Homo sapiens: one gene and its partner. The protein of the gene in region 1 purifies or fractionates together with the protein of each later gene. This does not show direct contact. Each region holds a gene or a part of one and is shown on either strand. Other genes may lie near its edges.

Region 1 (2,997 bases):
TGGGTTGGGTATTCCAGTGGGAAGATCATTGAAGGGAAAAATGTTACTATTTACTGAGGTATTTTTCACAGAATGATTGAATTAAAAAAAACTCAACTTGCATTTTCATTGTGGGTGCTTAGAGAAGTTCTACAAAATTCAAACTGTGAAGGTTTATGCTTCATTAATTATGACCATACTTTTTCATTTTCTGACGATCCCTGATTTCCTTATGGACTCAATAAGAATCTTTTATATCAAGTAAAATGAAAGTTGATGATAGAATATCAAATAGTGAATTTGATATGAAATCTAAGAGTGTGAGTCACTTGCATATGTAATGCTTTGGGTTTTTGCATATTTTCTTAGGTCACAGTGACAGGTTTCTGAGTTGTTTCCCTTTTCAAGTCTCTGGGAGGCCAGTGGCAGCAGCAGGTCTGTGTTTCACCTTCTTCCCATGTGAGCTTGGAAAACTTTGGCATCTTAATTAGTCTTGAATCATACACCTGATCCCCAAACATTGCCTGCTCTCAATGAAACATGCTTTGGAAATGGAAGGGACTCAGAAAGTCGAAATCCCAAGAACTCCAAGCCAAAAGTGTTAGGTTTTAGTGAAATTTGTGTCAGGTATAAGCATACCTGTTTGGGCCAGAATTATTATCACAGCCTTTCTGACCCAAACTTTCAAAAGCAAATAAACAGCATATAAAACGTTAATTATCTTTCCATTGTAATTGTGATGATCTACTCTGTATGGGTACCAAAATCACCTTCTCTCTTCAAGTCAAAGTTGAATTTAGAACTTTGAATACAGGTCAAAAAATGTAGAAAATATCATTTTATATTCCCTAATCTATATAGCTGAAAAAGGGTTGTATTTTCTTAGCTGAATATGAATACCTCTTAAACATAAATTAGTTCCTCTCCAGTGAAGTATCTTATTTTACCAATCCATTTCAGGAAAGAGGTTCTGCTGCCGTAAAGGCAGAAATTTTATTTTTATCCCTTTTATTTGAATGAGAGATTTGAAAATCGAATTATGTAAATATTTCAATGCATCTGCTATTATTTTGTGGAGTTTATTAAACTACTTTAAAAAAATTGTATAGTCTATTTATTGTATGTATGTACATACAGTCTGATACCTAAAATTTAAAGTGGATTCCATAAAACCAGACTCAAGTCTTGTTTAGACTACTGAATACTGTTTTAGCCTGTGCCCTGGATTCTACCTCTGTATAGGAAAATTTTCCATATTCATTAATTAGTGTTGATCTGTATTAATTGGTTATGTTTCTTGCACTAAGGATGTTTAAAACTCCGCTGTAAGTGTAGATTTTAGTTTTACTGGCAGGATGAATCACTTGACACATAGGTAGATACTTGAGGTTCATTTTCTTTTCTTTTTCTACATGATGATGAATAGTTATGTTTTCTTCTCTGATTTGTTCAAAGTTTGCCAAAAGAAAACACAAAACCAGTACAGTACTTACTGATAAATCGTAGTGACTGTAATTTGTTTGTAAGGCGAATTAATGCTCTACAATTAAAGCTGGATTACTATTGAGGAACACATTGTCTTAGTGTAGTTTTTGAATGGAAAGTTTTTGTCATTAAGGATGAAGGAAACGACACAATTTGTTACTTTAATTTTATATTTGATTTAAACAACAAATAAAGTCATTGGGACAATAAATATATATCCCGATGAATCTTTTTGATTTGTTTTACTTTTCTTATTTTTTTTTTTTTAACTAGAAAAAGGGAAAGAAGAAGTCAGGAGTTTAAAACCAAATTGGAGGGCAGATGAGAAATCCTGCCAAGATCGGGATGTGCCTTCATGCATGAGGTGAGGCCAGAGGTGTGGGCACCTGTACCTGCCTCCTCTTCTGGGCTGGCTTTCCTGTCTGCCTGCTCTCGGGCTTGGGCAGAGCCATCTCCATCCTGGGGTTTCCTTTAAGCTAAGCTGAAAGCAAAATTTGGGGAGTGAATGATTTAAACTTTTCCTGCTGCTTTTGGTAACTTCTCACCTGGGGCCATATTTTACAGATTTGAATTTTTTTTTTTCTTTTTTTGAGATGGAGTCTCGCTCTTGTCACCCAGGCTGGTGTGCAATGGTGCGATCTGGGCTCACTGCAACCCCCACTTCCCGGATTCAAGCAATTCTGCCTCAGCCTCCCGAGTAGCTAGGATCACAGGCACCCACCACCATGCCCAGCTGATTTTTGTAGTTTTAGTAGAGACAGAGTTTCACCACGTTGGCCAGGCTGGTCTCAAACTCCTGACCTCAAGTGATCCACCCCCCTCAGCCTCCCAAAGTGCTGAGATTACAGGCGTGAGCCACTGCCCCTGGCCCAGATTTGAAATTTTTTAAAAATAAAACATGATTCTTGGTTATTGTAGGTATTTAATAAATGTTAAATAAATATATACATAGAACAAAGTAGTGCCTGCCTTCCTGCTGTGTTTTTTGAGTTAGTATATTGAGATAAAATTCAACAGGTTTTATGGATGCTGAGTGAACCAGTTCTTTGCAAGAGCAGTGGTAGAAAGTGGTATTGGCCCTGTGTTCTTGAGCGACTCACAAAAGTATGAGAGCTACTCCAGCAATTGAGAAGTTGCACAATAGAGACCTAATAGAACATGTCACTTTCATATTGATACCCCATTTTGTCTGAAACCACTTTATCTCCCTTGATGTCATTGGAGTCAGCATCTTGGGTGGGTCTTAAAGACATTATCTTCTGAAAAGTCAGCCATGATGAGGTCCTACCCTTGTTGAAAAAGAGAAGGAAACAAGAAACATGCTCTTGCACTGAGACAGGAACAGGATACTTAACTTGGGTTTTATATATATATTTATTTTTAAATATATATATATTTTTAAACAGAGTCTCACTTTGTCACTCTGCCTGGTGTGCAGTGGCACAATCATAGCTCACTGTAGCCTCCAACTCCTGGGCTCAAGTGATCCTCCCGCCTCAGCCTCCCTGGGACGATGGGCCTGTGCCACCATGC
Region 2 (2,530 bases), on another chromosome or scaffold:
AATATATTCTCTTTCAGAAAAATTGAGAGATGGTGAAGGGCACGTGTCTTACTGTTTTCTGTAAATTCTTGTGACCCTAGAAAACGCATAAAATATCTCTCTAGGTCCATGTTCAGCTGTATTTTAGATGGTGTCTGTTAGTACTGAAAATAATTAAAAGATTTTTGTTTGAATGTTTCCTGGGATCCTTACAGGAGAAGAAGGGCCTCTAAGATGAGGTGTTCCAAGATTTCTGAGAGTAGCAGTTTATACCCAATATGATGTTTATGATTTGCCAGGAAAGGTTTTAATCCACTGACTGATATGCATTTCAAATGCAGTTACACAATGTGGGTAAGTTATTTGGAATTAACTAGTTTTTTTTTTTTTTTGAGACAGAATCTCACTCTGTCACCCAGGCTGGAGTGCAGTGGTCTGATCTTGGCTCATTGCAACATCCACCTCCCGGGTTCAAGCAAATCTTGTGCCTCAGCCTCCTGAGTTAGCTGGAACTACAGGCACGCGCCAACACACCCGGCTAATTTTTGTATTTTTAGTAGAGACAGGGTCTTGCCATGTTGCCCAGGCTTGTCTCGAACACTGACCTCAAGTGGTCCACCCACCACGACCTCCCAAAGTGCTGAGATTACAGGCGTGAACGACCACACCCAGCCTAGATTTTTAAAAAATATAATTTAGACTTGTTTCCATCTCAAATATAAACCTTTATTTAGCCAAATTTGTGAAGTTTTAAAAAGATATGTAGCATTTCTTGAAAAGATGCTCCTTATATCTAATCTTTTGCATAAATGGTTTGTATTTGTATGGAATTTGTAAGGATGGATTCCCACTGTTGAGTAATTTCTGTGATAAATGAAAAGGGAATTGAAGCTTTTCAGGTGGCTTGTAGGAACTAGAACAACCGAATTACAACTTTCCTCACACTCCTTCTGTCGCCTCCAACAACTTCTTAGGTATTTAGGAATAGAAGAAAGTCGCCTGGAGGAAGAAAAGAGAGCAGTAAACCAAGTTATTACCTCATTGTTTGAACCCTTTGTTGAGGGAAAGGAAATAATAGATGTCTTGGTTTTATTTCTATGAAGGGGAAGAATCCATTTTCTAATTCCAAATGATGAAGTTAAAAATTTTTCTGTTTAAGGAGTTGATATAATTCTGCTGGAAAAGAAAAAGTTTCCAGGCCATTGGAAATCATGCAGGGGCAGAAGCTGGTATTAGCTACTGTTCATATTTGCTTTTGGGCAGAGGAAGAGTTCATTATTTATCCTTCTTTTCCTCTGCCTTCCCACATGGCTATCCTCTTTACATTTTATTTTGTGCCTTCAATATGATAGTAAATAATAGAGCCATCAGTCAGACAGCTGTGCCTGTAGTTAGAGGGTACTCAGTACATGTAGAATGAATGAATGAGGAAATGAGTATTTCCTATGATATTATTTGCATCCCTCCTAATGGAAGAGATTAATTTATAGCAATGTTTTTCTTAACAAAATACTTTTCTAACAAAGAAAGGGGTATTTTGATGATGGTCTTGGTTTATTACTCCCTAGCTCTAGTTTGTGGACAACTTTTTATTTCTATTTATGGTTTGAAACCACTAGATTCAGGTACTTTCCATAGGTAGCTTGGGTGGTTTTTATCACCAAAGGAATTTTTGTTCTATGTCTCCAGTGCCCTGTTGGGCGTTACAGAGCTGTTAATATACACTGTTGGAGAATTTTGCTAATAGTTATGATTACATGAGAAGTTTTCACGTATTTCCTTCTAACAATTATCCTTCTTCCAATACCATGCAGGGTGTGTATTTATTGCCTTTTTCTCCCACCTGTTTTAGGACCTACCTCTAGCTTCCAGGACTGCCCTGAGGTATGAGGAAGGTGATTAGTATTTTCTTCTGTCACATTATAACCTGTGACACCCATCAATGAAACCTTGGGGCAACCTGTACTCTCTTGCTAACCGAACACAATTCTTGTCCTTGTGTGCAGGTATAGTGGAGGATTACAAGCCACCGTTCTACGATGTGGTTCCCAATGACCCAAGTTTTGAAGATATGAGGAAGGTAGTCTGTGTGGATCAACAAAGGCCAAACATACCCAACAGATGGTTCTCAGACCCGGTAAGAATGCCAGTTTCTCAGTTTTAGAGCTCTTTTCCATTGTTTGCTATTTGTTTCCCTTTGAGTTTCAACTGGTATTGCATCTGAGTGATCTGTCCCGTGGATCTGTTGTTTTCTCTTCCTATTTTATATAGAAGGGTTTAGATCTAGAAGAGTAAGTTCAGAAAAATACTCCATTCTTGAAGAAGCCATATCTCATAGGGGTTGCTAGTGAATGACAATATTTGTAAGAATTTCTGTGAATATGCAGCTTCAGGAATCGGGAGACTCATGACTACTGCTATTAGCCCTAAGACTGCATGTATAAACCAAGAGACTTTAAGTGAAGCTTTTAACCTCCTTTCCATCTCTGTATATCTGAAATCCCAAACACAAGCTGCTGGATGCTGAAGATCCTGTATTGCTACTCATAAG

The links.
Region 2: the proteins of CCNY (region 1) and ACVR1 purify together in Homo sapiens (co-immunoprecipitation; one large-scale study listed by IntAct). This does not show direct contact.

Annotation. Positions count from the first base shown.
Region 1 is NC_000010.11:35,570,246-35,573,242, forward strand, and holds the end of CCNY (cyclin-Y), read left to right. Parts: 3' UTR 1-2,422; downstream 2,423-2,997. UniProt on the Homo sapiens protein: Positive regulatory subunit of the cyclin-dependent kinases CDK14/PFTK1 and CDK16.
Region 2 is NC_000002.12:157,738,026-157,740,555, reverse strand, and holds part of ACVR1 (activin receptor type-1 precursor), read left to right. Parts: intron 1-1,985; coding exon 1,986-2,116; intron 2,117-2,530. UniProt on the Homo sapiens protein: Bone morphogenetic protein (BMP) type I receptor that is involved in a wide variety of biological processes, including bone, heart, cartilage, nervous, and reproductive system development and regulation.